Homo sapiens: one gene and its partners. The protein of the gene in region 2 interacts with the protein of the main gene of each other region in a pairwise test. Each region holds a gene or a part of one and is shown on either strand. Other genes may lie near its edges.

Region 1 (7,030 bases), on a different chromosome or scaffold from region 2:
AATCCTTAGGCAGTCACGTGAGAATCTACAATCAATTGTAAAAAACTAAATGCCCTCTTCTCCATTTGGATCCAGTATCTAATTCCTGGGTCCTACTGGCCTACTTTAAAATGACAACCTGCAGTTGAGTGCTGAGACTTTAGAAGCTATAATTTAAGTCATAGAGAGCCTATCCATTGAAGACTTTTTACTAATAACTGCCCAACCCAGAAAAGTAGAGATAAAATAGTAAGGATGGAAATACAACCTACTGTGCAAGATGGTGATCTCTGAAGTCAGACAGCCCGGTTCTAATACTGGCTCTGTCATTTACTTTGTGGCCTTGAGCAAGTTACTTAACCTCTCTGTGCCTCAGTTATCACAAATGAGAAGCAGGGACAATTAAGGTATTAGAATTGTGTGTGAGAACAAAGTGATTAACATATGTAAAGTTCTTAGAACAGTGCCTCATGTGTGATAAGAGTTAGGTACATGGTAGCTATTAAGAATACAGTCTCGATACTTGCATACAGCCAGGAAAAGGAATGAAAATGTAATTAAAAGATAAAGACTACAAGAAGGAAAAATGTAATTACAAGAGTATCCTTTAGAAGAGTAAGGTAGGATGGAGTGTATGTATTTTCTTCATAAAATAGTTACCATGTTTACTGATAATTAACAATATGTTTATATGAGGTAATAGTAATAGGATATTAAATTGGGAGGGGAAATATCAGTTTTGCATGAGTAAAAACTACGCAAAATTATTTTGAATGAGTTTATTTTTGCAGGAAAAATCAACGACCAGCTACAAAAAACAATTTTTAAAGTTCTACGAATTCTGATGTATCCCTACCTCCTACCTACCAAAATCCAAAAGCACATCTGCTCCATGTAGCTTTCCTTGACTCCCCAAGAATAATTCCCTGTTCCATCTCCAATCCAGTTTCACAAATTTGTTTACATCTCTAGGATCTTCCACTATTGTATAACAATTTATATGCTTCCTTATTTTCCCATCTCTGCTGTGCTGGGAACCCCTTAAGGGAAAGGAGCTGTGTCTTTCATGTCCTGTGAAATCCAACAGTCAATTCTAGGTCCTCCTCTTGATCTCTTGGAAGCTTTTTTTATGGTTCATTACCCTCCTTCCTAAAACATTTTCTTGGCTTGGTTTCTGGGATGCCACATTCTCCTGGTTTTGTTTCCACTCAACAGCAAATCTTTCTCCATCTCCAATGCCACCTCCCCTCTGTCTTCCCAACCACCAAATGTTCGGAAACACTGAAACCTCAGTGTTCAGTCCCTGGGTCCTCTTCTTTATTTACACTTAGGGTATGCTTGATTGTATCTAGTTTTGTAACTTTAAACATCATTCATATCCTGATAACGGCAAAACTTGTAGCTCCATCATCAAAACCCTCTGAGACTCAGATTCATATATCCGACTATTTGAATATCTAATAGGCATCTCATTCTTAACCTGTCCAAACTGAATTTTTTAACTTCCCCAAGCTACTCTTCCCCTAGGCTTCCCCATGTATGTACATGACCACTCTTTTCCACCCGGTTTCTGAAAACAAAAACTTTGGTATTGACTCCTTTCTTCCTTTGACAACATTCCCCTCCCTTTCCATTTAAACCATTAGTTATCATCCCTTCCTCCTACCAATCAGCTCAACATTCAAAATACATCCCAAACCTGATCACTTATCACCGTCTTCATTGCCTTCATTCTTGTCCAAGCCACCATCATCTCTCATCCAAACTACTATAATCAATTCCCAATTCCCTACTTCCAATCTTGCCCCCTATCATCAATTCTCCACATAGCTGGCAGAGGGACTGTCCCAAACCCCAACTTCTCCAATCACTTCCCTTAACACTCAGACCCAACCCTATATTATGTTGTATATGATGCACTCCATGACTCAGTCCCTGTTATCTCTCCAATCTCATCTCTTAACACTCTCCTCATCAGTGTTTTTGCTTTAGCCACACTCACCATCTTGTTATTCCTCAAGCACACCCAACTCCTTCCCTTGAAGAGTTTGTACTTGCTTTTTCCCCAGTCTCATACTATTCCGCTAGATCCCCCCTAGCTTCAATTGACCACATTATTTAATGCATGTGTGCTTGCACACACACACACTCTCTTTCTCTCTTTAACCTATCTTGCCACATCTTTCATTATAATAGTTAATACTACCTGATATTATATATGTATTTGCTATCTCCAGCTTCAAAAAACAAAGTCCTGCATATTATAGACACTCAACAGACTCTCAACTCAGATTATTCTCAACTGAATAAATGAATTACTATGTCTTTGCAATCTTAGTCCTTCCAACACTTAGATAGTTTCTGGTCCATTAAAACTTTGATGAATAAATGAACAAATTGCTTGTCCAATAGATATCTGTTTAGGAATGAACATACAAAAATGTTTATTATATTTATTATATTTCTGAACTATTTTATTCATATTTTAAATAATCATTTTATCCCCACTGTAACTGTAATATAGCATTGAATTTTCTTTTTTTTTCCTTTTTTTTCTTTTTTTTTTTTTCTTGAGACAGAGTCTCACTCTGTCACCAGGCTAGAGTGCAGTGGCACAATCTCAGCTCACTGTAACCTCTGCCTCCCAGATTCAAGCGATTCTCCTGCCTTAGCCTCCCAAGTAGCTGGGACAATAGGCACGTGCCACCACGCCCAGCTAATTTTTTTCTATTTTTAGTAAAGACGGGGTTTCACCATGTTGGCCAGGATGGTCTTGATCTCTTGACCTCGTGATCTGCCCACCTCAGCCTCCCAAAGTGCTGGGATTACAGGCGTGAACCACCACGCCCAGCCAGCATTGAATTTTCTTGACCTAAGTGGCCAGTGTCACATCTACTGAATAGCTTAACTATATAATGTGTAAATATCACTTGGGATTCCTTCATCTACATTATGTTCAAAAGCTGACATACATTTTGGGTGCCTCACTCAAACTCCTCTAGTTCTAATATACAGAGCATATTTCAGAGTAACCCTAAGTTCGGCTGACGGCTAGGTCTAAAGGGTAGGAGCAGTGGGATGAAGGTGGGAAAAGTCACTCTTGTTTATTACAAGTGTGCCTAAGAAACAACCCTGGGCTCTGCTCCTTACTCCCTTCCAGGGATGACTCAACGCGTCCCAACAACCTTTAGAGCTTTCACAGCTTACCATGGAAGAATTGCATTTCTTCCCCCATCCTATCTTTAGTTTTGAGTTTTGTAGCAGACCCCTCACTGGTAAAATATTCTTACCGATTAATGTTTCACTTGACATATAGCATAAGGATAAGAGCTCCATTTTGAATTTAGATTGTATGTTGAGTTAGATTGTGTACATGGTTTATATGTCGGGGTACATAGGTGTGTAAAATAAGCTCATTCCAGCTGAAACCTCTTTACGATGTTCACCATTTCCACCATCCTCTGTATTATTTTGTCTGTGAATCTTTCTTCTATCACCCACCCTCCTAGAGCTTCTTTGTTGAAAGCCATCAAATTTGGAAAACCACATGAAGCCACTATTTGCAAACCCAGGCTGCCTATGCAGGAAATTAACACAATTCATGGAAAGAAGAGAAATCCAGTTACTCTATCAGCTGATTGAGATGTAAAAGGAAGTTGTTTTTACAGAAAGCTGAAAGTCAGTTCTAACTTTTTCCACTTAGTTAAATGGTGATCAGCCCAAGGTAGACAGTCATAACCTTAATGGCCAGAGCAGGGAGTGGGAAACAGGTCCAATCCACAGGGGGAAAAAATAACATAATTATAATAAATAGTGAATAAAAATAAAGTCCCAGGTTTATAAAAGGTTGTGACATAGTTCTGCTCATTTGGGAAAATTTATTCATAAGTTTCTCTTTTGCTCTTTCTGAAGACACCCGAGAGTCTCTCATATCTGTAATCCCAGTGCTTTGGGAAGCCAACGCACAAGGATCCCTTGAGCCTAGAAGTTCAAAGTTATAATGAGCCATGATCATGCGACTGCACTCCAACCTGGGCAACAGAGCAAGACTTCATCTCTAAAAAAAAATTATGGATACATTAATGGTTGTTCTTATTTACTTATAGAGTATATGTGATGTTTTGATATAGGCATATAATGGGTAATGATTAAATCTGGGTAAATGGTATATCCATAACCTCAAACATCCATCATTACTTTGTGTTGGGAACATTCTAAATCTACTCTTCTAGTTCTTTTGAAATATACAATAAATTATTGTTAACTATAGTCACTCTGTTGTGCTACTGAATACTAGATTTTATTCCATCTAACTGTATTTTTGTACCTTGTACCAAAAAGCCAACCCTTCTTTATCATAAGGTGCTATCATTTTCTCAACTTTCCTGATGAACAATTCCCGGCACAAAGATACTACTCTATTTCCCTCAAGGCTAAACTGCTTGTAATGGGGTAAGTGGAGGCCATGGAATAGTAAACAATATGAGCAGTGTATAGCTAATAACAATAAAAGAGCCACTGTTAGTTAGGACCTGCTATTAACAAGTAAACCAAACATGTAAGGGATTAACTCAATGGCAAGGTATTCCTTGCTCATGTGATGCTCCTGAGCAGGTATTCAAGTCAGTAGGGCTGCTTTCTTCCATGTGGTCATTTAATGTCTCAGGCTTCTCACATCTGGTAACTCTGACATCCCCTAGGATTTCAGTTATCTGCATCCACACAGCTGAATGAGAAACAGCATGGAGAAACTTGAATGGAAAGTTTTATGGGCCAGGCCTGGAAGTGACAAACATCGTTTTCAATCACACTGCATAGGAGTTTATTTAGTCACAAGGCCATGCCTCACTGTAAAGGAGGCTGGAGGGAAAGCCCCCCTCTGTGCCCAAAAGAGGGAAGAATGGATTTTGATGGAAGCTAGCAATCTCTGCCTGCATCAGACTCTGTGGCCACCAAATATCCTTGCACATTTTTTCCCACATGTAAAAAAAACTCACTCTTTTCCCCAGAAGGACCACCTAGAGTTGCATTCTGGCACTGCAACTGTGTCAAAGACCAGCATCTGTTAAGTGATGCATGATTCTGTTCATTTGATCTAAACGTGATTCCTTGTGATCCAATAAAAGACAAATTATCTACCCATATACACAATTTGCCCCATGCGGTGGTGGGACAGGAATGGGATAATCAAAACATTCAAACTCCCTTTCAGAAAGGGAAGAATGGGAGACACATTGCAATAATAGAATTCTGATGACAATCCTGATAGTATCATCTATTAATGGAATCCAGAAACAATCATTTTCTAACTCTTTGAACCCATGAAAATCTGTGTTCTATCAATCTCAGCTTTAAAAACAACCAATTCATCTCTTCCCTTTCTTATAACACCTTGCTAAATATGTAAAATAACAATTAATACATACTAACATTCTGTCATTTTCCGGTCTCTTCATAGAGTGCTATGGACTCAGTGGGAAGTAGCTTTACCTTCCAGGTTTCACAAACAATAGTTTTACAAAATGTTTTGCCACAGTATAACACAGATCATCTTTCCAACCTGCTCTGTTTTGTCACCATCTGCCACCTAACAGCTAAGCCAACAGCACATGTATTTTTAGGTTTTTGTAATGATGGCACCATACTACTATGTAAGCTAAGATGCTGTAACAGATAGGCTAAAATATATAAGGGTTCAAACTATTAGAATCCTATTTTCTTACATAATTGCAACATGTATTTTAGATTTAGAGGGTACATGTGCAGGTTTGTTATCTGGGTATATTGCATGATGCTGACATTTAGGATATGAATGATCTTGTCACCCAGGTGGTGAGTACAATACCCAATAGTTAGTTTTTTGACCCTTGCCCTCTTCCTTCCCTTCCCAACTAGTGGTCCTCAGTATCTATTGTTGCCATCTTCCTGTCCATGTGTACCCAGTGTCTACCTCCCACTTATAAGTGAGAACTAACGTAGTATTTGGTTTTCTGTTTCTATGTTACTTTGCTTAGGATAATGGCCTCCAGCTGCATCCATGTTGCTGCAAAAGACATGATTTCATTCTTTTTAATGGCTACATAGGATTCTGTGTTGTATATGTACCACATTTTCTTTATCCAATCCACCATTGATGGGCACCTATGTTGATTCCATGTCTTTGCCATTGTGAATAATACTGCAATGAACATGTAAGTTCATGTGTCTTTTTGGCATAATGATATATTTTCTTTTGGATATATACCCAGTAATAGGATTGCTGGGTAGAATCCTGCTTTTGGTCATATAAGAGACCTTGGCAGGTCTTCAGGTTGGTGAGATAGTTCTGTTCCATGTAGTCATTCAGGGATCTACTTTTTTCCATCTTGGTACCCTGCCATCATCTAGGGCTTTGTGGTGCTCTGTATCTAGACACTAGAAGATGAAAGACTATGGAGGAGTAAGGGTAGGGAGTGGTGGTATGGGCCAGGCTGACAGGTGGCATGCATCACTTCTGTTCACATTTCACTGGAGAGAACTTAAACTGTAGGCCACACATTATCACAAGGAAGGCCAGCGATGTGCCCAAAGAAGGGACAAACAGACTTTAATAGACACTTAGTCATCTTCACCACAGTCATTAAGTTGAAATTGCTTATACCAAATACAATACGCACAGATAAACATATCAACTGCCTTAGCACCATGTTTAACTCCCTATTTATTCCACTACATATGACATACCTATATTTCCCAGACTTGCCTGGCCATAAGAAAAGCTTACTTGTTAAAAATGCAGATTCTTGGGTCCATGTAAGGGCTTCTACACCAGACCCATTTAGAGACAGAGCTGTGAATATGAATGTCAATAAGCTTCATAGAAATTTCTAATTAGGTAGAACTTGTGACACTGCTGTTTTAGAGTTCAAACCCATTTAGATATCACAAATGTATATAGTTTCAGCTAATGTGACTTAGTAGGTTCAGAAAACCCTTCTTTATGCTGTAATGGTGCCTATGAATCAAGCCAAAAGGAGCAATTCTATAGTCAACCATCCATCAGTAAAAAGCA
Region 2 (7,030 bases):
TGTTTCCTCCCAATTGAGAAACTGCAAATAAAACGACTGTTTCCAAAAACTGACTGTGTTTATGCGATAACTTAAGTTTCAGATGACTCTGAAGACTGACAAGGTTCAACTGTTCAGCACCTTTCCACAGTCTATATTCAGTAAAATAGTACCAGAAGGAAAACTGAGGGATGGAGAGGAAAATATATGCTAGCAAGTTCTTTGTGTTCACGTTTGTATATGTTAACATTACCAAAACTAACTAAACTGTTCTGAAGGTCATTATAAATTTTAGTTACATTAAGTATCACATCAAGGAATTTCTATTTAATACGGCTTCTTCAACTAATCAGGTGGCTAGCTAAAAACACCTATTGAGTAGTTATTTACCTCTGATGGCTGTAATTTATTTTAGAAAGCAAAATAAAAACTGAGATTTGTCTTGGGTAACCTAAATTAGAACAAGAGATACAAGAAATAATATAATTAACTTACTGCTGGTGTTCCAGAAGGAAAGCCATCTTTCTCTGAATATGAAACAAAACATAACATTAGCAATTCAAGAAACAGCACTTTTATATGATAAAAGGAAAAAAAAAAAGCAGAGAAAGTGAAATGTTCTTAAACTGATTTCAAGTTGAATTAACTCTTGAGAAAAATGAACACGCAAGTAGTCAAATAAGAATTTATATAAGACCAAGGTAAGAAATCTGAAATCTACATGAAACTATAAATTTAGTAAAAATCAGTGAATTATATATTTAAAATGGGTGAATTGTATTGCATGTAAATTATACCTCAATAAAGCTATCAAAATTTAGTTTGAAAGTATACCTATCAATCTGTATTTATTAAAACAAAACAAATTTATTGATAAAGATACTTTCTCCAGAAAACTGCTGACTGAGGAACTTAATGCAACAATTAAGACAATGACAATTGTGCAAAGTAAAATTCTGACATTGTTTTGTTTTTCTTTTAAAAATGCCCAGAGACATACATATATGTGTGTGTGTGTGTATATGTGTGTGTGTATATATATATATATATGTGTATATATATATATATATATCACACACACACACACATATCACATATTACATACGCACAGGCCGGGCGCGGTGGCTCATGCCTGTAATCCTAGCACTTTGGGAGGCCGAGAGACAGGCAGATCACCTGAGGTTGGGAGTTCAAGACCAGCCTGACCAACATGGAGAAACCCAGTCTCTACTAAAAATACAAAATTAGCCAGGTGTGGCGGCGCATGCTTGTAATCTCAGCTACTCAGGAGGCTGAGGCAGGAGAATTGCTTGAACCCGGGAGGCGGGGGTTCTGGCAAGCCGAGATTGTGCCACTGCACTCCAGCCTGGGCAACAGAGTAAACTCCAGCTCAAAAACAAAACAAAACACACACACGCACGCGCGTGCGCACACACATATATGTATGTATGTGTACTAGGTGAAAATAAGCTACCATTTTGTGGTCAAACATTGGTTTTTCAAAAAAATTACTAATTTACACACAGACTTACTGGTTGATAGAAAAGTTCTAGGAGCAAGTGTGACCTTTTCCTAACGGTGTACTAGACTCAACAAAAAAAGGTCAAGATCACTTGAAAAAGATTTCTATTTCTCCCTTGCACATGGCCTTTGTTTCTGTGAGGATGCAAACAGTAAGTAAAATCAATTAAAACCACATGTACGATTTTAGCTCCATCATATTGCTTTTGAAAACCACATGTATGACTTCAGAGACAGACAAACATATTGAAAAATGACATCCTGAGGATGTAGTGAGCAAAATCTAAACTGAGGGAAACAGGACAAATGATCTTGTTTCTGTAATAAATAAACGTCAAGAAAAGACAGCATGAACCAGTGTGTGGGAGGGGAAGCCTAAAGATCAAAAGAGATTCAAGAGATGTATCAACCAACTGCGTTGTATGAACTTTATTCTGATCTTTATTTGAACAAAAACTATTTTTAAAAATCCACTACACCAACTCTTACACTATATACCAATTCACTGGTTCTCTCATAGGTTAACGGTATATCTCAGATACTGAGCAACTTGGAAAACAAAGTACATCAAACCCCATTTCCATCCAGCTATATTCATCCAGAAAGTAAAATTTGCATTACTGTGACTATGTAGATGATATTCCAGATATTCCATTTCTGAGGTATAAATCCTTTTAGTTCTAACGCTTCTTTCGTATATGATTTATCTGTTTTATATATTAAAATACATATATTCTATTATCTGCACACTTGCGAGTTTCAATTTTTTGAGTGGACCTAAACATTTTTTAGTTCAACCTCCTCTTGTCCCGCTAACAATAAATGTGTTTCTAGTATGAACATGTCTATCAACCAGCGTCTTTTCCTTTGATTGCTGGAAGTCATTTAAAAGCAGTGAAGAGTGAAAAATGAAAACAAAAACACAGCAATGAGGAGAAAAAACCAAATAAACAAAAAGCCAAAATATCCATCAACTCCCGTTTCTGGCAAACCTATGAGATTACTATAATTCACAGATCCAAATTATGCTTCAGAACTGCCCTGGATCAGTCTACAAAAGGTAGAATCTATCCAGGGAAAAACCGTTATCAACAAGAACCATAGTTTAGCTTTTCATTTTTCCAGGAGTAATCTTTTTATCTAGAAGTGCTTCACAAATCTCCATCTGATCCAGCCTTATGCCACTCTCTTACCAGGAGGAGTAAAGCTCAGATATTTCTGCTTCACTGTGTTGGAGTCGTAGAACTTTAGGACATCCAGCACAGCCTGAGGATTCTTCTTTTGCTCTAGTTTGGTGATATTGGAGGTCTGTAGTAATCGAGCCCACTGTTCTGGCATGCCCTAACAAGAAGATATTCAGAAATTAGTTATGGTTTAAATTGATGCAATAAAATTAATTTCCAGAGATAAATGACAAAATACACAAAACAAACCAATCTTTTGAGTGTAGGTTTGAGTAAATTTTAAAAGATCTCATTTTCTAAAGGTCTATTTTTTCTTTTTTCTTTTTTTGAGACAGAGTCTCACTCTGTCACCCAGGCTGGAGTGCAGTCGTGCGAGATCTCGGCTCACTGCAAGCTCCACCTCCCGGGTTCAGGCCATTCTCCTGCCTCAGCCTCCAGAGTGGCTGGGACTACAGGTGCCCGCCACCACGCCTGGCTAATTTTTTGTATTTTTAGTAGAGACGGGGTTTCACCATGTTAGCCAGGATAGTTTCAATCTCCTGACCTCGTGATCCACCCGCCTCGGCCTCCCAAAGTGCTGGGATTACACAGGCGTGAGCCACCGCGCCCGGCCTAGGTCTATTTTTTCTAAGTCTGTTTTGCATAACTATAATTAATAGGCTCTGCTCTCTAGGAAAACGATATATCCAACCACTAACACTTTTATAAAAAGCAAAAAGCAGTAAGAATTCATAGTTAACGTATAGATAGAAATGTTAATTTCCCTTTTTTTGAGACGGAGTTTCACTCTTCTTGCCCAGGCTGGAGTGCAATGGCACAGTCTCTGTTCACTGCAACCTCCATCTCCGAGGTTCAAATGATTCCCCTGCCTCAGCCTCCTGAGTAGTTGGAATTACAGGCATACACCCCCACGCTTGGCTAATTTTCTTGTATTTTTAGTAGGGATGGGGTTTCACCATGTTGGCCACACTGGTCTCGAACTCCTGACCTCAAATGATCTGCCAGCCTTGGCCTCCCAAAGTGCTGGGATTACAGGCGTGTGCCACCGCACCTGGCCTGAAATGTTAATTTCAAATTTAATAATGAAGGAAAATGTTTGAGTGCTATTTTAAACGTTATAAATGGGCCCGAACTAGGTTAACTTACAGTGAATTCTCCAGTAACAGCATCAAAGCCAACATGGATGGTGTGCTCAAAATCAGATGGAGGAGAAATTTCTGGCCGTTCCTTTTCTTTCTTTTTACTTCCTAGGGGGCATTAGAAAAAAAGAGAAAGAATCAGCCTATTTAAACAAGACTAGTAAAGGCACTTATAATTTTATTTTTTGTCTTTTGTTTTTTTAAATGGAGTTTCGCTCTTGTTGCCCAGGCTGGAGTGCAGTGGTGCAATCTCAGCTGACTGCAACCTCTGCTTCCCGGGTTCAAGCCATCCTCCTGCCTCAGTCTCCCAAGTAGCTGGGATTACAGGTGCCCACCACCATGCCCGGCTAATTTTTGTATTTTTAGTAGAGACAGGGTTTCATCATGTTGATCAGGCTGGTCTCAAACTCCTGATCCACCTGCCTTGGCCTCCCAAAGTGCTGAGATTACAGATGTGAGCCACCGCATGCCCGGCATATTATGTTTATATTTTTCCTAAAACATATTAGGATCAAAGTTATTCTAGAAAACACACTAGAATCAAAGTTATTCTAGAAAAGATTTCCCCTAAAAACTGGCTGATAGGAAACTAGTAAATGAAGTAAAGCAGACTGTCCTGCCATAGAGTAGGGCTGGACACAACCAAACACTGAGGAGGCACATGGAGTGACCAACGGCAGGCCTGAGTAACAGAGCACAGGCAGAAGAGACACCCCCTTCGGGCACCAGCTCTCTCACAAAGGGCTACATCTCAGATGCTGAGCAATGTGGACAGCAAACACAGCAAACCCCATTTCCACTCAGCTACATTCATCAGGAAGTCAGATTTGCATTACTGTGACTCCGCAGATAATACACACTGTCAAGACAAGTAGTTGACAAAACCACCTCTCCTTTTTTGTGCAAGCATAATCCTTTTTTAGTGGAGTTACTAATTGCCACATTTTAAAACTATGCAGTTTTTCTATGGTCCGATTGTAAATTATTTCTGCAACATTTCTGCCACACACCTATCAATAATGTTCTCTGTGAACTCCAACACATCAGTTCCTTCCCCCTACCCCCTCCCTCTCAGCTCCTCCTGCTCTAATCTGCAGTAGCTCATGCCTACGCTTCCTGCAGTTACCGTCCATGACATCCCTTCACTCCTGCCCTGTATGTGCTGGAATCTATTTTCTGGATCTTACGTTTTCCTCTTGATTTATCCCTTTAGTGATAGTTCTTCACTAATTTTATATATATATAAGTTGGAACCCTCAGCATTTCCAGTGTTGCCATTTAGAAGGCCAGCGCCATTTTGGTTCCTGTTTGGAGCCACTGTTGAAAGTCAATTGTCTGTACACGTGTGAGTCTATCTCTGAAGGCTCTGCTCTGTTGCAATTATCTGTTTGTCTGCCTTTATGCCACTATCAGACTGCCTTGATTATTTTATTGCCATTTTGTAATACGCATTGAAACTATGTCACATAAGTCTTCTTTTTCTTTTGTCAAAGCTGTTTGGGTAATCGAGGTCCTCTGCATTTCCCTATTAATTTTAGAATAAGCTTATTAATTTCTACAGAAAGCCTGTTGGAATTCTGACTAGAATTGGAATGAATGTACATACAGATGAATTTTAAGGAGAATTTCTTTCTTTCTTTCTTTTTCTTTTTTAACAGGGAGTCTCATTCTGTCGCCCAGGCTGGAGTGCAGTGGCGTGATCTCAGCTCACTGCAACCTCTGCCTCCCGGGTTCAAGCAATTCTCCTACCTCAGCCTCCTGAGGAGCTGGGATTACAGGCATGCACCATCATACCAGGCTGATTTTTATAATTTCTGGTAGAGATGGGGTTTCACCATGTTGGCCAGGCTGGTCTCAAACTCCTGGCCTCAAGCGATCCATCTGCTTTGGCTTGCCAAAGTGCTGGGATTACAGACATGAGCCACTGCACCTGGCTGAGAATTTATTTCTTGATTTCTTAACAACACCGAGTTTTCTGATCCATGAAAACAGCAAATCTTTTCATTTATTTAGGTCTTTAAAAATTTCTCTCAGCAGTGTTTGCAGTTGTCTTCATCCGTTCGGTACGCTTTATCAGAATACCACTGCCTATGCAATTGATTAATATAAACATTAGAAGCTGGCTGCGAGCAGTAGCTCATGCCTGTAATCCTGGCACTTTGGGAGACTGAGGTGGGCAGATCACATAAGGCCAGGAGTTCAAGACCCATCTGGCCAACATGGCAAAACACTGTATCTAAAATGCAAACTTCAGCCGAGTATAGCGGCACAAGAATTGCTTGAACCCAGGAGGTGGAGGCTGCAGTGAGCCGAGATTGTGTCACTGCACTCCCCAGCCTGAGTCACAGCGTGAGACTGCCTCAAAAAAATAAAAGTTCATTTGGCTCACAGTTCTCCTGGAGGCTGGAAAGTCCTCCAGGTCAAGGACCAAGAAGCCACACCTGGTGAGGGTCCTTCTTGTTGTGTCATAACGTAGCCGAAGGCATCACATTGCAAGAAAGAGAGCAGGAGAGGGCCAAACTGGCTTTTATAAGCAACTCGCATCCACAATAAAGACATGAGTCCATCCGTGAGCACTCGCGTCGCCTCTTGAAGGTCCCATGTCTCAACACTCTCTTACTGGGGCTTCAGTTTCTAACACATGAACTCTGGGGGACACTTAGAAACAGAGCAGTAGTTATCAGTGCAGAGCGCACACTGTTTCATCAGATTTCTGCCTCGGTATTTCCTGGTTTTGATACTATTGCAAATGGCAGTTTTAAAATTCCCTTTTTAATCATTCATTGCAGCCATAAAGAAACACAGTTGTTTCTTGAATACTAATCTTATATCCTGAAACCTTATTACACTTACTTCCACTAGTATTTTTGTAAATATACAATTTTGCTACAAAAATTCAATCATGTTGTCGGTGAATAAAATCAAGTTTACTTCTTTCCAATCTGGATTCCTTTTATTCGTTTTCTTAAAAAAAATTTTTTTTTGCCTTACTACATTAGCTAGACCCTTCAGTACATTGTTGAATAAAAGTGGATGAAGAGAAATTTTATTTTTCCTGATCTAAGAGGAAAAACTGTCATTCTTTTTACCCTTAAGTTTAATGCCAATGGTAGGTTTTTAAAAGATGTCCTTTATGAGGCTAAAGGGCATTCTCTTCTATTCCAAGTTTGCTGAACACTTCTATCAGCAATGGATACTGGGTTCCGT
Region 3 (7,030 bases), on a different chromosome or scaffold from region 2:
CTAGGGTGGAATTTTCAATATCATTCAATTTAGGACTTAGAAGGTATAGTGTGGTGAAGGGTGTTTGTGGTTGTATCTGATTCTCCAGCTACTCTGAAATAATAATGCTTAGGCGTTGCTTTCTCTAGCAGTTCCCAGAGGCTTCTTCCAACTCCTTCCTCTGTAGTTTCTAGTGCCTCAGAATAGGCTTGCAGCAAGAACAGTGTCCATGGATAAACTTGAGTATATTGGGGTTTTCTCAAAAGAGAACCGAGTACAGTTCAGGAAACTTCCCTCAAGCAGATGCAATGACTCTTCTTGATGCACATTTCATTTTCTGATTAGTTTATTTATTTTCAAAATCAGTCAAGTACTTGTACAAGTGAATAATACCAGTGTTGCCATGTATAGGCATTTAATAACCCTGGATAAGGAACAACTAAAACCAGAGGGAGAGGTTTTTTATCACAACTTTTGCTCTCATGCCTTATTCTGCTAATATTTAACTTCTGCTTATTATTTTAGATCTACTCATCTCTACCACACCCACCCAAAACATGTATCCACATGCACACACACATGCACACTCCCATTAGGACTGATGGGCTAAAAACAAGTGATTTTTTTTGCTTTGCTACTATTTTGGCATACATGTCATTAACATTTTCCCAGTTGATCAGTTCTAAGGGAGACTCAATAAGTCTGAAATCCCCGGAGATACTAGACACTCTCTCTAGTCTATTGCCTCTTGTTCACCCAGGCTTTGACAAACTAAAACAAAACTCTTGTCAATGTATTTCTGGAAAAGTTTGAATTTTATATTGTAGCATTCAGAAATATATTTGGAATGTGTTGTTGTTTAACTCTTTAGTAATATTAGCATTACTCTTTTACCAGAAATATATTAATGTCTCATTTTTAGATGCATCTGGGCTTTTTGGTCATTTTAACTTTGAATGCAAAATATTCATTGATTAAATGAATAAAGCAGTGAATCCTAGAATAGGCAGACTTGTGTAGGTTTGCATTTGCATGTATCTTTATTGACCCCCCAAAACGTGAAAAATTGATATTATATATTTTCACTCTAAAAACAGATTATAGGTTTTCAAGAACATGTACAAAAAAGATAGAAATTTGTCTTGATATGGTTCCCAGAAAATATGCAGCTTAAAAATGGAACAAATGGCTCTACCTAATGGGAAGACAGACCCTTTAAAATCCTATGCCCATTACCAATCATGTCCCATATGAAAAGGTACATTTTATTTCCATCACCACATTTGGGGAAAAAATGATGCAATCTGTTTTCTTTAAGAGACTTCTAGACATCCTGGAACAAAATGTTTTTAGAAGGGGCATTTCCATCCAGAAGGTGGGCATCTGGTTACCTTCAGATATGCATACTTACATTGTTGGCTGGCAAATTAATAGATTGTACCTGTGCATGAGAACACTTCTAATTTCAAATATACATATTTGAGACTCAATATATTTTAACACACTGACTACATTTCAAAGGTAACAGGTAAATTGTATTGAAAACAACATCTGATTGGTATCTTCACTGGGGACAATAGCATATCAGATTGACAGTTGACTGGTAAAGTGAAATGTATTTCCTTAATGTGTTTTTTGCCAAGAGTTGAGTAGTATTAGACAGGCCAGAGGTCATATTTGGGAAAGTCATCTAAAGCCAGGAAGAGCCCATAGGCCCAGGCAGGCAAATACTTGAATTCATGATGAGCTGAGAGGGGCAAGGTCAAACAGCAGAAACAGAACTGAAGCTGGGAGCAAAAGGCAGACCTGGGCAGAAAGTTTGGGCAACATGGAATTGGGATCCTAGGCAGTTGGGATGCAGCGGGTGGCAGTTGGGAGGAAGGAGAGCAGAGAAAAAGGCACTTTTGACAGTGACTCAACTAGGCACAGCTAATAAACTGTACAGATGCAACCATGTCAAAAAGGCTCCACCTCCTTATTTATGGACTGTCGAGGACATTATGTAGGTGATGGGCATTGATTGTAACCCATGCATATGAGCTTCCTGTAACTGGGCTGAAACTATTGATACATTCAGGCCAGAAGAGTGGGTCTGAGTATGCACTGTTTATTTCCTGGTGGGCGCTGCCTTCTCAGCTTGGCTCTCATTTCCCATTACTGCTTTGCTCTGACTCACTGATGGCCTGCCACATGTCATTAGGCGGCTCAACTGCTGCTCTCATTTCTCCCAAAGGTATATGGAGGTTTGTGTCTTGGCTTCTACACTTTTTTTTTTTTTTTTTTTTTCCGGAGAGCTGGAGGAAGTGGCCTTTTGATAGTTTTGTTTGTTGAGTTGAATACTTGTAGTGTCTTACGGTTTCAATTTTCCTTTCTCATAGATATTTGATCCTGATGACCTTTATTCAGGGGTCAATTTCTCCAAGGTACTGAGTACTCTTTTAGCTGTCAACAAAGCAACAGAAGGTAAGCCGGGCTTGTGATTTATATGTTCTGGGTGACATTTTTGAATCCATGTGTTTGTGATTACCCTAGGAGCCAACTCTGGCCAGGATTGTTCTCGTGATGCAAATTTTCCCCTTGCTCCCCCAAATACACCCCAACAAATGTCAAATGCTTGAATTTTTCATGGCTTAGGATTTAAAATATACCTATCATAGATGTTATTCTAATGCCCTTAATATAATGATAAGAACTAAGAAACTATTCCATTCAAAGCTCTGAATCACCAACTGAGTATAACAAAACAGAGAAGAAAAAGGAAAGACCAGTTCCCTTTTTCATAGAGTTTACAAAATACAGCCGTCACTTCCCTTTCCCCACTAGAGACATATTTTTCTCATTGTTTTATGTATGCCTTTGTCCATGTAAAGGAACCCCTCAGTAGCCTTGCACCAAAAATGAAATCTTGGGGTCATAGGGAGTGAAAATAATATCTTTTATTTAAATGTTTAACACCTACCACACTAGAGGTATTAAATATAAATGCTAGTAAATGTGAAGAAAATGATGATACACTTAGAATGTAGCTTCACTCCTTCCCTGGTATATTTTACCAACAGCTGAATAGTAATAATCATACTTAAAATGCTTTGAGCTCTTGCCCTGGATCTAGGCTGTCATAAGAGCCACAGGTGATCTCATCCAATCCTTGAAACAACACTGGGGGTAGGTATTATTATTATTAGGTCCATATTACAGATAAGGAAAGTCAGGCCAACAGTTGCCCAACTAGAAAGTTAGTCGCTGAGTTGGGATTCAGACCCACATCTGAATGACTACAGAGCCCTTATGCCCAAGCACGAGGCTTGCTGCTCAAACTGTTGTAGAGTCAAGAGGCTGTGTGCCCAGCATCGCCAGGTGCTACAAAAAATGTCAAAGCTATGGTCCCTGCCTTTGAGAAAATTACTGTCTATTTAAGGAGACTCAACTTACCCACGTGAAACAATTAGAGGACAAGAGCAGACAATATAATCAAGTGCCAAATAGGTTAGAGCATCTAGGAAGCTATCGAGTAATTATAGTTTTTGTCAAAAGAGCTGTATATAATAGCAATACAAGTAAAAATACTTCTCCAAAGTTGTTCTTTTGCTATTTGGAAAAAAAAATGCTTTTGAGCTATTGCAAGGCGTATAGCTGAAAGTACAGCTAATTCAAGTAACTATATTTAACACACATGACAACTATCCAGTTCTAGTCAGGGAGGATCGTGTAATTCTAACATTATGCCACACAAATTATACGTTCCTTTGCCAAACTCTCCTAGCAAGTTTTACAGTCTCTTCCCTTGCCACAGATATTTATAAAATACAAGGAGGTGAAAGTTAAAACCCACAGCATCAAGGAAATTACTTGGATACTGAGCTTGTCGCCTAGGGAATGTTTGGGCTTTAGACTTTTGCAGTTTATATCTTTTAAAAATAAATGGAGAGGAAAAGAACCCTTATTGAAATTTGTCAAGAAGCCAGCTCCTCTCTTTTGTATACTCTCAACAAACTGAAAACATCCAGCTCAGCTCTGGCCTGGTCGAATTTCACAAGGTTTCAAGGAAGAGAAGACTCTTGAATCTGATTGTTAAAAAAATTATTCTAGTATCAAGATTACATCTTTCCCAAACACATCTTCTCTTTCACTCTCATTCTCCACCCTGCCCCACACACATCAGGGAGATTTTACATCATATATGCCACACATATTGTTACGTGTGAGTAAGAAATGAGCCACTGAGTTATGGGCCAAAAAACAAAGAGAGAAATTTGAAATATTTCAAAGTAATAAGAGCCACAAACAGCTGTTTGGTACCCAATATAGTTCTGCCTTGGATAACAGGGCATACTGTTGCAACTGGTTCAGGAGGGAAGAGTTGTAGGGAAATGGTTAAGAGAAAATGTGGTTCTGTCGCTGTTTTTCATTCTACTGGAGCACGATGGCCAGTAAGGTTAAGAACAGGAAGTTGGCCACCAAAAAGGGAAGGGGGATTGAAATACACTTGGCATGTTCATAATGATAACAGTTAGAATTACAGCCAGGATGCCTCTGATAGTATCCTGAGAAAGATAATGTTATGCGGTAGATGTTTTTCTGATCTGAGTGGTTCCTTTAACATGCCTTTTCCTCTTTTCACAGATCAGCTATCAGAAAGACCATGTGGACGTTCCTCTTCTCTTAGTGCTGCTAATACTTCTCAGACAAACCCACAGGGAGCAGTTTCTAGCACAGTTTCAGGGCTGCAAAGGCAGTCAAAGACAGTGGTAAGTATAGTCCCCAATTCTCCGTCTGTTTTAAAATCCATAAAATTAGATTGATATCCTAGTTGCATCTCCATATGTGGTGAGACAGCCATCCGGGTTGTTTTGGGCATCACTGAGAAAACTAATTATAAACCGAGCACCAATTCAGGCTGGCCCGAAGGAGCAAATCAAAGGCATGTGGTGGGGCAAAAATCCGGATTGAAGCTCCAGCTCTGTCCCTTACGAGAATTAGGCAAGTCACTTAACTGAGAATGCTATGCAAATGGAAGTCATTATGGCTACTTTCTGATGGCAGTTTGCTGTTAATTTCCCTATCCCTTGTTTTATTAGAACTAAATAGTGCCTGACACATAGTAGGCAATCAATAAATATTGATTAGTATCCTCATTATTATTGCCATTTTTATTTTTCTCTTTCCATTCCTAATGAGGAAGGCTTGATTTTAAATTTCAGTCTATGATGAGCTTCTATATTAGGATCTCCCAGTTGCCTTTTCACTTGCTCTTATTGGGAGCTTTTATTTGGGAGGAAATGCCTCATCTTCTGCTCTTTGGGTGAAACCTTTATTTCCTGTCAAAAGCCACCCACTTGCAGTAAGACATTATGACCTATTACTTCCAAAGCACTTGAGCATGTGGTTCTTAACTTTTTTGGATCACAGATCCCTTTGAAAGGCTGATGAACACTATGTCTCTACACCCCTGGTACCCTCTCAAATTGTATACAAAAGCCCATGTGTATGAACTTATTTAGACAAAAATATGTTGTGCTCATCAGATTCTCTAAAGGGTCTGTGACCCTCAAAAAGGAAGTCCAGTTTATACATGACAGATTAAGAATTCCTGACTTAATATATCCATGTAATAAAACTGCAGTTGTACCCCCTAAATCTATAAAAATAAAAAAATGGAAAAAAGAATTCCTGACTTAGGCAACTATGGGTTATTTGATCTTTGCATATAAATAAGTCTTAGCCAAATTAAGATATCCTTAGTAATTAGGAGATGGGAGGCAGATTTTATGGAGGGTAGGTTAGTACATCTTGGTTATATAATTATGTGGACTGTTTGTGTGTTGAGTAGAGGCAGGGTGGAATAGCTTATCCAGGGTGGAATAGCTTATCACTCTACTTTGTTATCTGGCTTAGTTAAATAGATAATCTTTAGATAATGGGGAGGGGTGTGGAGAGAAAAATGAAAGCTATGACCCACTTCAAAATACAGATTCTCACAAATGCCAAAGTTTACATACTGTTTTGAGGGATTTATTAATCCCTCTGAGACCCATTCATGGATTCCTAAGTTAAAAACTCAGGACTGAGATGGATCTGGGGTTTTGTCTTTGCTTCCTCCACTTTATTTGCCTATATCCATATCATTTCTACCCCTGCCTTATTTAGATGAGTGCTTAATCTGGTGTGGCTTTTGTTTCTCTAGGAGATGACGGAAAATGGAAGTCATCAGTTGATAGTAAAAGCAAGATTCAACTTTAAGCAGACTAATGAGGATGAACTGTCAGTTTGTAAGGGGGACATCATTTACGTCACACGAGTTGAAGAAGGAGGCTGGTGGGAAGGCACATTAAATGGGAGAACAGGCTGGTTCCCCAGTAATTATGTCCGTGAAATTAAATCCAGTGGTAAGTGAAGTTTTTAAAAGGCTTTTTGATTGTGACTCTTGTACTTTCTTGGTATTCTTACTGAAAATTGTGTAGTTTTAATTGGTTAACAGAAGCTGTTTATACTTGTATGTGTATGCCAAAAATAAGAGTAGAACAGAACTGGGAAAAATCTGTGATTAGATATTTTGAAACAAATTGTATTTAGATTACATTAAGGCAGCAGAAAAATAAAAAAAGCAAAGGAATTCAAAGCTCAGACAACTGGTCCACCCTAACTGTATCCCTTTATGTCTACTAATTCTAGCCCATGTAATATAGTACATAGTCCTTCTCACCACTCTAAAACTTACCATGGCAGAATCCAATAATAAGAGAGGCCATGTGCTAACTTCCTTTTTTTAGCCTTAAGCCCTGTAAGCAGACCTGAGACTAAATGCCTCAGACATGAGAGATAATAATGATAGGGCTGCAGGAAGCTGTCTGGCCGCTTTGATGCTGAACAAGATTGCCCTTAACTCACTGAATACTGCTAGCTGTTTACCTTTTTTTTGTAACAATAGCCAGAGAATGAAATCGAATTGCTCTTCAGTAGTCTTTTCTTCTCTCTCTCTCTTTTTTTAATTATTATTTTTAGACAGGGTCTCACTCTGTTGCCCAGGCAGAGTGCAGTGGCTATCACAACT
Region 4 (7,030 bases), about 60 Mb from region 2:
ACTTAAACTCTGTACCCATTAAACAGTAACTCCCCTGTATATAGATAGCCAAACTACCAGTCATGTATGAGAGAACAAAATCACTTTCAGATATGCATTCTAAAAAATTTAATTCCAATATATTTTTAACTCAGGAAACAACTAGAGGACGTGCTCCAGCAAAATGAAGGGTAAAGCAAGAAAAAGTAAGACATAGGATCTAGGAAGCGGAGGAACTGTGGGCAGTAGTTCCAATATTGGTTTCATTTTCTAAACTTTTGCTGTGGTATTTGCATCTTTGCTTTATGCAGGGATGTGTGGGGCTTGAGTGGTGTTTATATTGTACTTCATTTCTTAGTGCCTTTGTGATGCTTCTTTGGATATTCTATGCATGTCCAATTTGGGAGAGCCCAGTACTTGTGTTGGTCCATAACTAGAATTATAGATGTCGAAGATAAACTGGACACTAGTTAAAATGGTAAGGACAGATTTTATTCAGTAACTATTGCAGTAGGGAAGAGTGTCCAGTGTGAACTCAACTCACTTTTGCCAAAACAAAAGGGGAAGAGACTTTTTTAAAGGTTGAGTATGCTAAGGGAAAGACACTGCTAAGGGAAAGAAAGATGGTTTTTTTGTTTTGTTTTGAGACGGAGTCTGTCTCTGTCACCAGGCTGGAGTGCAGTGGCGTGATCTCAGCTCACTGCAGTCTCCGCCTCCCAGACTCAAGCAATTCCCCTGCCTCAGTCTCCTGAGTAGCTGGGACTACAGGCACGCACCACCACGCCCAGCTAATTTTATTGTATTTTAGTAGAGACGGGGTTTCACCATGTTGGCCAGGATGGTCTTAGTTTCCTGACCTCGTGATCTGCCTGCCTCGGCCTCCCAAAGTGCTGGGATTACAGGCGTGAGCCACCGCGCCCGGCCACTGAGTGGTTTTTAAGGGCAATAGGTGGTCCATGTGAGTAGGCCATCTGGGTTTGTTATTGGCATTTATCTGGAAGAGAAACAAACTTATTATTTATGACAGGAGGTGGTGGTACAAATTAGGCCCACCAATGTTTGGCCCTTACCCTCTCGCCAGGGACTGGGAACAAAAGTGAAAGTTATCTTTTTGATTGTTTGCATTCCAAAGAGGTAGTTCTCAGGTCCTTGGGAAGATAGTTCTTGATGGTAGAAGATTTAAGTCACAAAGGGACAGAGAAAGGATTTATAATTTCAAGCTTTCTAAGGTAACTGCTCTAAATGGGGGTTCAGGTGACCATCTGCCTATCACCAGGTTTTGGCTGGAACAAACGGTAAATTCTGGCCATGTGGAGCCTTTTCAGGTAAGGAACTTGATGGAGTTGGAGTCATTATTCTAGGATATGGGGAAAAGATATGAACAAGCACTTTACACAGAAAAACAAATGTAAATGTCCCTTAAATATGGGAAAAGAAATCACTGTAATAAGAGAAATACAAATTACAACTCTGAAATACTATTTCTCCCCTATTAGATTGGCAAAAATCCAAAAGATTGACAACATAGTTTGTTGGCAAGGCTGTGGGGAAATAATCACTGATATATTGTTAGGAGTTTTTAAAAATAGTTTATGAATACAGAATTTAGCAGTATCTCACAAAATTATACAAACTTTAGCTGTAACTCAGCATTCTTCTATGATTCTAACCCAAAGGTACACTAACAGAAAATCAAAATGACACATGTATGAGGCTGTTCATTGCAGCACTATTTAATCCCAGAAAATTACAAACAACCCATTGACCATCAGTAAGGTCTAGTTGAAGAAAGTGCTACTTACATAATGATGACGCACTCTGCAATTGTTAGAAGTAGTAGATGTATTAGTAAAGGAAGTCTCATGTGCTGCTGTGGAATGATCTTAAGGATAGATTGTTAAACTGAAAATGAAAAGATTCAGGCAATATAGTCTATGCCTATGTGTATGTGTGTGTGTGTGTGCGCGCCTGTGTGCATGTGTGTGTGTATGTTTTGTTGTGGGGGTAGATAAAAATTAGAATTTTCAATTTTCTTATATATTTTTCTTGAATACTTTCCTTAAATTATTTAAAAAAAAATAGAAACATAAACCAAAACAAATAAATAGCTGTCCAGGCCGGGCGCGGTGGCTCACGCCTGTAATCCCAGCACTTTGGGAGGCCGAGGCAGGCGGATCACGAGGTCAGGAGATCGAAACCATCCTGGCTAACACAGTGAAACCCCGTCTCCACTAAAAATACAAAAAAATTAGCCGGGCATGGTGGCGGGCACCTGTAGTCCCGGCTACTCGGAGGCTGAGGCAGGAGAATGCCATGAACCTGGGAGGCGGAGGTTGCAGTGAGCCAGGGTCGCTCCACTGCACTCCAGCCTGGGTGACAGTGCAGTGCGAGACTCCGTCTCAAATAAATAAATAAATAAATAAATAAATAAATAAATGGCTGTCCAGTGGGGTGGATGGGAGAGGGGAGAGAAAAGAGAAGGTATGGAAGAAGACCTCTCTAAATGTTTTAAATATGTTTGATATTTAAGCATATTTAATGTTTAAACATTCATATAAACAATATTAAACATAATGTTCAAACATGTTTGATATTTAAACATCTACCTTGCTTGATAGTTTAGCTTTTAGAACCATCCAAATGTTTTACATAATTATGAAACAATTACATTTTAAAAAGGGAAAATAAAGTGATCTTCAAAAAATGAAAACAAGTGAGCCTAACTCTACGTCCAGTTGGTGTCATAACCACACAGAAGTATATATTCTACCTTTTCTGTAAGGTTTTATGTTTTAGGGTAATAGAACAATAAGCAAAATTTTCCTTTGAGAATAATCACAGTTTCTGAAAGCAGGTAGAGCTAGCACATCATCATTATTGAAATAGTTGATCTAGGCAGTGATCATCAGTGGCAGGTAAAACCATTGGGTAGAGGTTTGATGGGGGAACTTTATAATAATGGATAAATCAGTTCAGTGCTACAAATCTACCATTCAGTCTTAACATCACAGAAAATGGTTCAGGCAGACATAATGTGCCTCCTAATAAATGGCAATAACAAGTACACAAGAATACTTAACGAATTATTCTTGCAACAATGACAAAACAACCTAGAAAAAGTAAAGCCTCTAGAAATAATTACCAGTTTATAGGAGATAGGGGGGATAGAGGAACACCATGAAAATATACACTAGCCAAATTCACGATGTGGGAAATGCTACAGGACAAGTGAAGCCAGCTTCTTAAATAAATGACATAGAGTGGGGAAAGAGAACAGTGTCAGAGACTTAAAACATGTTAGCTTAAGTGCAATATATCGACTTAGTTTGGATCCCAGTTCACACCAACTGTAAGAATGTTTAAAAAAATACACTTAGCAAAAATTGAATATTAGCATTAGATGAAATAAGTGTTGCAGGAGTTCTTAATAAAGGAACACCTTTTCAAAATGAGCTTTTGAAAATATACTGATAATTTAATTTTAGTATAATTGACTTGTTTGCAATCTTATATATTTTTATGCATCAGAAACATTGTGAGTAGAGGTTCTATGTTTCACCACACTGCCATTAGGCAGGAGGAGGGGAGGTCCATGGCTTAACCCATTTGTGCCTAGTGTTCCATTATTGGAACGCTAAGCTTGTGAGAGTTATTTATATCATGCTCAAGGTCGTCACCAAGGTCTGATTTTTCACACAAGAAATTGCAACCTCCGGCATATATGGGTTAAAAAAGGGAAAAGGTCAGGAGCCCTTGATTTGTTCATTTTTGAGGGGTATGGGTTTTTAATCTGTTAGTGCTTAATGAAATCATGGGATTCCAGTTCCCCCACCAAAAATTAGGGGGATAGCTGAACCACAAGGCATAATATTGATAAAATTGGGTGATAGGTATAGGATTCATTATACTATTCTCTTCTGTAAATGTTGAAAAGTGCCATAATTATAAAACTTAAAAGCATTATATAAATTTTTAGTTATTATACCAGTAATGTAGTAGAATGCTATTTTTGTACATTCTGGGGAGGACTAGATAATATTGGTAATACTTTTGTCACCCTGATAGGTAAAGTGTGGTATTTCAGTTTAGTTTTCATTTCTTTAATTATAAAGATATTCAGGATCTTTTGAATACTTTTTGACTATTTGTGTTTTCTCTTTCAGTTTTTATTTTAATTAAACTTTTTATTTTGAGATCATTATAGATCCACATGCAATTCTGAGAAACTTTAGAACTTATTGCGAGATCCAGTGTATGCTTTCCTCCAGTGGCAATACATCTGGCAGAAGTATAGTACAATATCACAATAATATTACAAAATTTCTTCATATTGCCCTTTTATAGTCATACTTACTTCCCTCCTGTTCCTGCTGCCCCGTTAACCCTGGCAACTACTAATCTGTTTCTAATTTCCATATTTTGTCATTTTGAGAGTGTTATATAAATGGAGTCATATAGTTAACCTTTGAGATTGGCTTTTTTCACTGAGCAGTTATAATTCCCTGGAGATTCATCCAGGTCGTTTTGTGCATCAATTGTTCTTTTTGGTATGAACGTACCAGTTTGTTTAATTATTTGCCTGTTGAAGGACATCTGGGTGGTTTCCGGTTTTTGACTGTTAGAAATAAAGTTGCTGTTAACATTCATGTAAAATGTGAACATAAATTTTCATTTCTCTGGGATAAATACCCAGGGGTGCAGTTGCTAGCTTGTATGGTAGTTGCATGTTTAGTTTTATGAGAAACTGTCAGACAATTTTGCGGAGTATCTGTACCATTTTACATTCTCATCAGCAGTATACGTGTGATCCAATTTCAACTTACCCTTGTCAGCATTTGGTATTACCACTCTTAGCCATTCTGACAAGCGTATGTAGTGACATCTCAGTGTGGTTTTAATTTGCATTTCTTTAATAGCTAATGATGAATACCTTTTCATCTGCTTATTTGCCATCTGTAAATCTTCAGTGAATGCCTCTTCATGTTTTTTTGCTCATTTTCTAGTTGGATTTGTTTTTCTAATGTTTCTTTAACTTTTCTAACTGCTTAAGATAGATACTCAGTTCATTAATTTATTTTTAGCTCTTTTTAAAATTTTATTTTAAATTTTATTATTATTATTATTATTATTTTTTGATACAGAGTCTCGCTCTGCGGCCCAGGCTGGAGTGCAGTGGCGCGATCTCGGCTCACTGCAAGCCCCGCCTCCCGGGTTCAAGCCATTCTCCTGCCTCAGCGTCCCAAGTAGCTGGGACTACAGGCACCCGCCACCACGCCTGTCTAATTTTTTTGTATTTTTAGTAGAGACAGGGTTTTACCGTGTTAGCCAGGATGGTCTCGATCTCCTGAACTTGTGATTCACCCGCCTCAGCCTCCTGAAGTGCTGGGATTACAGGCATGAGCCACCGCGCCCGGCCACTCTTTTTGTTTTTTAATGTTACTATTTAAAACTAAAAATCTGTCTATATACACTCCTCTTGCTACATCCCACAGAGTTCGATGTATAGTTTTTAAAATTATTTACTTCTAAGTATTTTCAAAATTCAATATGATTTCTTCTTAGATTCATTAGTTTTTAGAAGTTTCCAAACGTGGTATTTCAAAAGTTATCTTTTTGTTATGGTTGTTGGAGAATATGGTTGTAGGATATCAGTTACGTGAACATTGAGACATTCTTTATGGCCTGGCATTTGATTGCTTTTTGTATGTGTTTCATTTGTTTTCTATTTGGAAGCAATATTCTGTATATGTCTATTAAATCAGACTTGCTGGTTGTGATATGAGTTCTTCTCTAGCCTTAATAATGTTTGTATTTATTTATTTATTTTTTTGAGACCAAGTCTGGCTGTGTCACCCAGGCCTGGAGTGCAGTGGCACGATCTTGGCTAACTGCAACCTCCGCCTCCCAGGTTCAAGGGATTCTCCTGCCTCAGCCTCCTGAGTAGCTGGGATTCCAAGTGTGCGCCACCATACCTAGCTAATTTTTGTATTTTTAGTAGAGATGGGGTTTCACCATGTTGGCCAGGCTGGTCTTGCATTCCTGACCTCAGGTGATCCACCAGCCTCGGCCTCCCGAAGTGCTGGGATTACAGGTGTGTGCCACCAGGCCTGGCCGTTTTTATTTCTTTGTTTTGTTACTCTGATAATATGTTAAAAATTGTCCTCTGTGGTAATGGGTTTGTCAAGATCTCCTTGTGGTTCTGTCAACATATTTTGAAACTATCTTGTTACTAGGTACATAGAAGTTTAGATATTGTAATTGAGTAGAACATTTTTCATTGGGTAGTGAACTTTATTGCTAGTAATGGTTTTTGCCCTTTAAGTTTTGTTTGATACTAATAGAGCAACACCAGTCTCTTTATTGATTGGTTGATTGATTGATTGAGACAGATTCTCCCTCTGTCGCCAGGCTGGAGTGCAGTGGTGCGATATCGGCTCACTGCAACCTTCGCCTCCCAGGTTCAAGCTATTCCCATGCCTCAGCCTCCTGAGTAGCTGGGACTACGGGTGTGCACCATCACGCCCAGCTAATTTTTGTATTTTAGTACAGATGGGGTTTCACCATGTTGGCCAAGCTGGTCTCGAACTCAACCTCAAGTGATCTGCCTGCCTTGGCCTCCCAAAGTGCTGGGATTACAGGCATGAGCCACTGCGCACGGCCATACAGTCACAGTCTCTTTAAATTACTATTTGCCTCATGTATTTTTTTCCATATTTTTTACTTTTCATCTTTATGTCTTTAGATTTTTAGGTGTGTCTCTTTTGAAAAGCATGTGAACTAATACTACCTCAACCTTACATAAAAATATTTTCCATGTGTTTACAGTGCTGAAGCTGCTGAAAGATGGCAGAAGAAGTGGTGGTAGTAGCCAAATTTGATTATGTGGCCCAACAAGAACAAGAGTTGGACATCAAGAAGAATGAGAGATTATGGCTTCTGGATGATTCTAAGTCCTGGTGGCGAGTTCGAAATTCCATGAATAAAACAGGTTTTGTGCCTTCTAACTATGTGGAAAGGAAAAACAGTGCTCGGAAAGCATCTATTGTGAAAA

Evidence for each region.
Region 1: the proteins of PAK2 (region 2) and RHOJ interact in binary tests that used the Homo sapiens proteins (3 or more experiments, as listed by UniProt).
Region 3: the proteins of PAK2 (region 2) and ARHGEF6 interact in binary tests that used the Homo sapiens proteins (3 or more experiments, as listed by UniProt).
Region 4: the proteins of PAK2 (region 2) and NCK1 interact in binary tests that used the Homo sapiens proteins (3 or more experiments, as listed by UniProt).

What each region holds. Positions count from the first base shown.
Region 1 is NC_000014.9:63,207,428-63,214,457, forward strand, and holds part of RHOJ (rho-related GTP-binding protein RhoJ), read left to right. Parts: intron 1-7,030.
Region 2 is NC_000003.12:196,798,828-196,805,857, reverse strand, and holds part of PAK2 (serine/threonine-protein kinase PAK 2), read right to left. Parts: intron 3,932-7,030; coding exon 3,831-3,931; intron 2,842-3,830; coding exon 2,694-2,841; intron 507-2,693; coding exon 475-506; intron 1-474. UniProt on the Homo sapiens protein: Serine/threonine protein kinase that plays a role in a variety of different signaling pathways including cytoskeleton regulation, cell motility, cell cycle progression, apoptosis or proliferation.
Region 3 is NC_000023.11:136,742,920-136,749,949, reverse strand, and holds part of ARHGEF6 (rho guanine nucleotide exchange factor 6), read left to right. Parts: intron 1-2,357; coding exon 2,358-2,442; intron 2,443-4,602; coding exon 4,603-4,727; intron 4,728-6,163; coding exon 6,164-6,365; intron 6,366-7,030. UniProt on the Homo sapiens protein: Acts as a RAC1 guanine nucleotide exchange factor (GEF).
Region 4 is NC_000003.12:136,921,180-136,928,209, forward strand, and holds part of NCK1 (SH2/SH3 adapter protein NCK1), read left to right. Parts: intron 1-6,804; 5' UTR 6,805-6,822; coding exon 6,823-7,030. UniProt on the Homo sapiens protein: Adapter protein which associates with tyrosine-phosphorylated growth factor receptors, such as KDR and PDGFRB, or their cellular substrates. Maintains low levels of EIF2S1 phosphorylation by promoting its dephosphorylation by PP1.